Homo sapiens: one gene and its partner. The protein of the gene in region 1 interacts with the protein of each later gene in a pairwise test. Each region holds a gene or a part of one and is shown in the gene's direction. Other genes may lie near its edges. The genes, in order: TLE3 and CHERP.

Region 1 (3,808 bases):
AATAACTCTCAGAGGACAAGAGGGTCCCAGTGTACACACGATTCCCTGTTGAACCTGAACCTTGTATAAACAGGATATAGGGCACATGTGGTGCTTGTGGGAGGGAAGGCCCAGCTCCCCTTACTACCACATAATATAACGTTCTGTTGAGATGAGAGGAACGCTCGCCCTTGTCAGCTCTTAAACCGCTCTGTAAGCTGGCTTTGGGGTTTGATTTAAACTTCTTTAGCAAATGTATCGTAAAAGTATGATTTGGCCAAAACCTTTCCAAGAAAAAACTGATTTTGAAAAATGACCAGATTTCTGTGTTGTCTGTTAATAGCCATTCTTTTTACTTTTAGTACTATGAGATGTCCTATGGCTTGAACATTGAAATGCACAAGCAGGTAAGTGCTTTTCTCTTTTAAAAATATATTTCATTTTTTAAAAACTTATATATGTGGACTTCTTATGTTCTCTCTTGTTTGAAAGTGAGCCTGCTTCTTCGATTCCTCCCCCTTCTCCTTGAAGAGTGAATGGATCCAGTCCTTGAAATGCAAGGTCTGAGGCTTTGCTGATTTTTTTTTAGACATGTTGAGCTTTTAGCATTTGAGCTTGTGAAATTAGTCCTGGTCTTGGATCTCGGTGGAGGATAAAGGACCAAAGGGAAAGTTGTACCTCCAGGATCTGCTTTACAAACTCCTGAAAGCCCAGAGGTGGCTGGCTGCTTTTATCTGTTTTAATGTAAAATTCTCAAGAGGAAATGCAGGAGGATTTTTTTTTTCTTTCTCCTTTTTTTTTTCTTTTTGCAGAAATGTGATGTTCTGCCTTGATAAGATTAAACTTCAAGAACCTTAAAAGCCAGGCTGAGCTGTCGAAATTTAAGGGAACGAAGCCACTAACTGCTTAAAAATATGAAGCCAGAATGAAATACAACTTCAGTGCCTTGCATTGACAAGGTGGCTTTCTCATCCCTGTCTTGATTTGAAGGCAGCCGAGTTCCCATTTTACAGAGAAGGAAGCTGAAGCTCCTGGGTGAAGTAACTTGCCCAGGGGCAGCCTAGCCAGGACTTTCGAGATGGCTGGGGGTTGAGCTCAGCTTTGAAATCCTGAAGTCAAACCAGTTTAGCTAGTGTGGTGTCGTTTGATGGATATGTAAACTACCTGGTATTGTCACTCTTCTAATAACAGTATACCTCAAACCGAGCAAATACAAACACCCTTTATCTCAGTGCATATCAGTAACTAGTCCCAGTGCTAGGCTGGGCTGTGGGAGAGGCCTGTTTGTGTATTTGTGTTCTGAGGAAAGGCTGCCTATAATTTGGCTTGGCCAACGTTTAGAGTTGACTTGGCACGTATAAATGGAGCAGGCAGGCCGGTTGTTCTTTTTAACAATTGGTGTTCATGAAATCTCAGAAGGCTGTTGACTCATTCTAGCCTTTGGTGACCGTGACTTGAATGGATTTTCTGCTCTAAATTAACAGTCGTTTACAAGGTTTCAATTTTGCTCTTTAAGGAGGCAGGACCCAGGGCAGGTGAGAAGGGCAGGTGACCCTGGAAAGTGGGCAGATTCCTACCCACTCGGGTGGCTTCCTATAGAGCCTTTGGGATCTGTAGTTTCCTTTCCCCTCCTGGAGGGAGCCCCCAGTGTTGGGTGAAGGGAAGCCAGAAAGGGGCCTGAGTTTATTGAGCAATGTGTGGGAAGCCAGCTTGTGGCTTCCTGAGGGATTAGTTAGTCCCTTAGGAAGGCACATGAAGGCTACCATGTTTTTACTTCTTGACACACAGAAATAATAGACAGGGCTTTATACGTAAAGATATTTCTCCTTGGAAAAATAGAATAGAGACAGGTTCTGCAACTGGAAGGGGCCAGGTCCCGGAAGAATGCTTGAAATGGAACTGGGGGCCCAGGTGTTTCAAGGACCTTGGGGTGTATGCAGGGTGCCACTTCCTCCCTTTGTCTGCCCTGTCTTAATTTTTTTTTTCTCAAATAGTATCTTGGGTGTGTTTAAAGAGGGTAATTGCACCCAGGTTTAAAATTTATAGCAGCAGTTATTGGAAGAGCTTGGTAATTAAGGTGTAATGTCTCGTTGCATGTTGAGGTCTGCATGGGTGGTGTTCCGCATGTCTGTGAATGAATGGTGCTTTGGCACTAAGAATCCACCTTGGCTCGCAGCAGATCTGTTCTGTGAGTCCTGGGGATGCTGTGAACGCAGGAAGAGTTAAATATCTTAACGCATTTGGTGGTGGGGTTTATATAAAGAGCAGCTGTGTACATCTGGGATTTCTGGCCATTCCCCAAACAAGGTTCTTAAGGGGAGAATGCCTGGGGTTTGGCTACGTTGTCTCATTTAATCCTCTCAGCTGCCAGTGGTGGATAGAGGCATTCTTTGCCCCCTGTTTATAGGTGAGGAAACTGAGGCTTCAGGGAGGCCAGGAGGGCAGAGCTGGGATTCAAATCCAGCCCTCTGGCTTCCCCACTGGGCACTTTACCTTGCTTGCCACTCACCTTTGCCCTCTAGCCTGAGTTCCCAGCCTGAACATGTGTGCTCTGAATGCAGTGGCTTTGCAAGCTTATGGCAGTCTCTGAGTTGGGTGAAATCACCCTGTGGCTGTGGAGGAACAAAGAGGCAAGGAGGTGAAGAAACCTGTGCCGTGAAATGCAACCCTGATCTAATGGAGCTGGCCACTCCCTAGGTTTGCAAGGGTTCTGTAGAAGAAAGCCCTGCCACTAATTGTAGTGTGGGTCTTGGGTGCATTTGGCGAATGGTGGTTAGGCCTGAGCAAACAAGTTTATCAGCTGACCTGTTTAGCGGTTGACTGGTGTTTTATCGGCACACACAATCAAGTGACTGGAGTGCTTGAATTATTCATGCAGTGTCCTGCCCTCTAGACTTGACTGTTCGTGTGATTACATCTGCCTGGAACAAACAGGCTGGATTCTTCATCTTTAAGCTGGGGTGGGGGTGGGGACTGTCTGTACTTTTATATAATAGATGATCTATAGAGCTAGCACCTTGGGAAGTGTGGCAGTCCTCAGCCTGCGCGCATACACGCACACGCACTCCACCATCACCACCACATATTTTTTTTAAAAGCTCTCCTTTGCTGGCTCTATGGGAAATGCCAATTAGCTGGGAACCTCGAGTCCTGCCAGATGGGCCCGGGTATTGACAGAGGGCAGCTGATGAGGTGCGTCCAGCCCATTTTTATTTTACTGAGAGGTTAAACTCACTGTGGCTGGCTCCTTCTCTGGCTGTTTCTCTGTCTCTCTCTTTTTCCAAGCTGTCAAAATCCCAGAGAAGTAATAAATGGTTTCTCCTCCTGCTCTTCTGCCTCCCTCCCTAATTATGGTAAAGCAAAGATTACAGAATCACAGGCCTGGCCCGGGACTTCAAGAGGTCACCCACCTCCACCAAGCCCCCTGCTTCCAGGCAGAATGTCAAGGGTGGTTCAGAGAGTCTGGGAAGGCAGTGATGACTGACCGGCTCATCACTTGCCATCTTGTTTGTGCAGAGGCTTTCCAGTGTCAGCCACAAATAACAAAGCCAGCTTAAAACCAGGGGCCCCAGAGCAATTGCCATGCATTGGATTTGAGGCACTGGCTCTCTGAGAAGCTGGGTCAGGCAGCCTTTTCACCCACTGTTGGTGAGCACTGACATTTTTGAAAGTGGACTTGAGCCATTTTGATTTTGGGGCAGTGTCGTGCCGACACAATACAGTCACCTTTTTCTGTGAACTGAACAACCTTTCCTGTAAGTTTCTCTTTGAATCTTGGAACTGGAAGAGCCCTTTGGCTTCTCATGCAAACTTTTCAAGTTACAGATGA
Region 2 (3,808 bases), on another chromosome or scaffold:
ACACTTCGAGCTGCGGCTGCACCTCATCTACCTGATCAATGACGTGCTGCACCACTGGTGAGCGCCGCCACCCCGTGCCCAGAGCGCCACTTCCTCGCGCTCCTCCTCAACCCTCCTGGGTGGCCGCTTGCTCCGGTCGGTAGCTTGGCTTGGCCTGTCCCGAGACTAGGGGGCACTTGTCCGGGGACCCCGGGTGGGGGGTCTCTGTGAGCCACCAGGCTTCTGTCTCCAGGACTGCGAGGTCTAGGTGTCCTGTGCACCTTCGCTGCATGCCCTGTCCTCTCCCCTAGACCCCGGCCTCACCTGTCACATTGCTGTCTCCTGGGGGCCACTGTCCCCTGCACTCCTTCCTCTCATGGGGCAGCTTCTTGGCGTCTCCTTGTTGCCTTCTCAGCCACGGCCTCCTTGGCCTCTGTGTCTGTCTCCTGCCCTCGTCACTGATTTGCACGCACACACACGCGGTCACCTGACTTTGCTCAGCCATCAGGACCCTCCTTTGGGATCCCCTTCTCCAGCCCTGACCCATCTCTCAGGCTTCAACAGAGCCACATCTGCCGACCCTCTGTCCCCACCCAGCCCTCACCCTTCCCACTGTTGCTGTCTCCACCCTCCCCAAGGTTGGGTGGGTATTTCCTTCTACAGGGTCACTGGGGCCCTTCTCACAAAAATTAGCAAAAAAGAAAAAAAAAACAATAGAACCCCAGGCCAAAGGCCCGCACGTGCGGGAGGAGACAAGCATTGCTACTGAGCCTAGCGGGCAGCAGTCCTGGCCTGGCGCCTCGTGTGCCTCTACAGTGGGCCAGGCTGCCAGCACCCATCTCGCCCCATCTATCACATGCAGCACTGCCTGAGTCCCTCTTGCCTCCCCACCTCAGTCCCTGTTTCTCTCCTGCTGGGAAGTGAGTTGCGGCTCGGCACCAGCTCTGCCCTTCTGCTCCTCCTCATGCCTCCATTTCTCCCTGCCTCTGAGTCGGGTGCCTTGCACGGATGCACAGTTTCCCGCATTCTCCAGCCACGCGCCTCTCTAGCTCTACTCTGTCCGAAGCCAAGTGCTGCTCGCCCAGCCCAGGCCCTTGCTCCCCTGAGCCCCCTGCGGCAAGCTGAGGGCTGAGGGGCTTCCAGCTGCTCCCCTCCTGTCTTGCGTCCCTCCCCAGGGGCAGCCATCTCCCTGCGCAGCGGCAGGGGCCTCCCAGGCCAGGTATGCACAGTGTCCTGTGCAGCACTGCACAGCAGCCCTGAGAGGACATGGGCCCGGCGCCTCCCCCCGCTGGGCATCCGGTCACTCTTCTAAAGTGTTCTAGGTTCCTGAGGGACTGGGCACCCTCCCTCCTTCTCCCAAGAGGCCTGGCCTGGGCCGAGGTTTCCTTGTGCATAGTGAGTGACAAGGACAAGACCCCCACTCCGCAGCAGTCCCATCCCGCCCATCATACACAGGCAGGGGCTCCCGCCGGCCCATATCCCTTCACCCGCAGCGCCACCCAAGAGGGAAGGAGGGAAGGTTATTTCCTATCAAGGGGACTGGACCAAAAGGCCTTGCTCAGAACGGCCCCAGGCCACGTTCTCTCCCTCCCCTGCTTGCTGTTTTTCCATCTGTCCCTTCCTCGAGCCCAGGCACCAGCACAGGTCTCGTGGGAGCCCAGCCATCGCCCTGACCGGGTTGGGGACCCGATTCCCGAGAAGGCAGAGGGCGCTGAGGCTGGAGCCGCGATGGTAACGGGCGCGTGGCCGGGTCCCGCCCCAGGGCCCTGACGCGCGGAAAGTCTCTCCCTCACAGCCAGCGCAAGCAGGCCCGGGAGCTGCTGGCCGCCCTGCAGAAGGTCGTGGTGCCCATCTACTGCACCAGCTTCTTGGCCGTGGAGGAAGACAAGCAGCAGAAGATCGCCCGGGTGCGTGGGCCCCGGGCCGGGGGTTGGGCAAGACCGGGACACACAGGCCTTTCCCCTCCCCACTGACCCGGCCTCTCTCTCCTCCCACCGCCAGCTCCTGCAGCTCTGGGAGAAAAACGGCTACTTCGATGACTCCATCATTCAGCAGCTACAGAGCCCAGCCCTGGGGCTTGGTCAGTACCAGGTGAGTGTCCCTGCCCACCCACACCTCACCCTAGAGCTGGGGCGGGTTCCCCAGGAGGGTTTGGGAGTGTGGGGACAGCAGCTGCCACCCCAGCAGCCAGAGAGCCCATGTCCCCTGCCTGTGCTAGGAGTAGCCAGTGTGTGTTGACCAGAGAGTCCCAGGTGACATTTCCCAGGCCTTAGGTGTGTCTCCCTGACTTTCCTGGAACACTAGAACCAGGCGGCCTTTCGGAGTCATTGCACATGGCCCATTTGCTCTGGTGGTCAGGCATGTTCCGGTGTGGTGGAAGCATGAGGAAGCCCAGACGTGGCTTAGGCTGTGGCAGCCCCTCTTGCTGAGAGCCACATGGCGAGTGGGAGGCAGAGCCCATGAGCGTGTCCCAGAATGTTGGTGGGCAGTGTTCGCTGAGCAGCCACGAAGCGGCCAGGACACGGCTGTCGTTGCTCGTTCTGTTATCAGGGAGTCGTAAAACACGCTGCAGCGAACATCCTCATCCCCAAATCTCTGGCCAGATCCCAGCGCACACTGATTGCCCAGACTGTGTTGGCTGTTTCACGTGACGGTTCCCTGTCCACCTGCCCCAGGTCCCCCAGGCTCTGCTGCTTTCCAGGCGTTTGTCCTCTGGCGCCAGGCAGCGAGCCCCAAGGCCGCATACTGAGCAGCGGGTGCTCTTCTCTCTCTCAGGCCACCCTCATCAACGAGTACTCCTCAGTGGTCCAGCCGGTGCAGCTGGCCTTCCAGCAGCAGATCCAGACCCTCAAGACGCAGCACGAGGAGTTTGTCACCAGCCTGGCCCAGCAGCAGCAGCAGCAGCAACAGCAGCAGCAGCAGCTCCAGATGCCGCAGATGGAGGCTGAAGTCAAGGCCACGCCTCCACCGCCTGCTCCACCCCCGGCCCCAGCACCTGCCCCTGCCATCCCGCCCACCACCCAGCCTGGTACGGGGCTCCCTCAGCTCAGCCTGCCCCCAGGAAACAGCCCCCAGAGGCTGGGCACCGAGTGTAGTCAGAAAGCAGTCTGCCACCCTCAGACTCAGTTCTTGTTCCCTCGTCCCAGGCCTGCTCCTAGGCCCAGGTTTTCATCCATTTACAAGCACGAGCCAGGTGATCCTAGAGTAAAACTACAACCATCCCATTCCTGAACAGCAGAAGATCTGTTTCCTGTTCCCAGAGAAAAGAAATAGAGGAAAGGTACCCAGATCATTCCCCAAGACTAGGGTAACTATTACATCAGGCAGGAAGGACAATGCACAGACTGAAAATATAATTGGCTAGGCATGGTGGCTTACGCTTGTAATCCCAGCACTTTGGGAGGCCAAGATGGGCAGATCGCTTGAGCCCAGGAGTTTGAGATTAGCCTGGGCAACATGGTGAAACCCCGTCTCTACTAAAAATAGAAAAATGGTGCTCACCTGTCGTCCCAGCTACTTGGGGGCTGAGGTGGGAGGATCACTTGAGCCCATGAGATTGAGGCTGCAGTGAGCTGCATTTACACCACTGCACTCCAGCCTGGGTAACAAAGCGAGACCCTGTCTCAGAAAATACAATCTAGTGTCACTTCTGAAAAAGACACGGAAATACTGAAGGAAATCTTAGCAGAATCTAGCAAAGGATTTTGTTTTTGATTTTTTTTTGAGATGGAGTCTTGCTCTGTCGCCCAGGCTGGAGTGCAGTGGCGTGATCTCAGCTCACTGCAAGCTCCGCTTCCTGGGTTCACGCCATTCTCCTACCTCAGCCTCC

Evidence for each region.
Region 2: the proteins of TLE3 (region 1) and CHERP interact in binary tests that used the Homo sapiens proteins (3 or more experiments, as listed by UniProt).

Annotation. Positions count from the first base shown.
Region 1 is NC_000015.10:70,091,110-70,094,917, reverse strand, and holds part of TLE3 (transducin-like enhancer protein 3), read left to right. Parts: intron 1-128; exon of another isoform or gene 129-192; intron 193-341; coding exon 342-386; intron 387-3,808. UniProt on the Homo sapiens protein: Transcriptional corepressor that binds to a number of transcription factors. Inhibits the transcriptional activation mediated by CTNNB1 and TCF family members in Wnt signaling.
Region 2 is NC_000019.10:16,528,847-16,532,654, reverse strand, and holds part of CHERP (calcium homeostasis endoplasmic reticulum protein), read left to right. Parts: coding exon 1-57; intron 58-1,774; coding exon 1,775-1,886; intron 1,887-1,980; coding exon 1,981-2,070; intron 2,071-2,754; coding exon 2,755-3,007; intron 3,008-3,808. UniProt on the Homo sapiens protein: Involved in calcium homeostasis, growth and proliferation.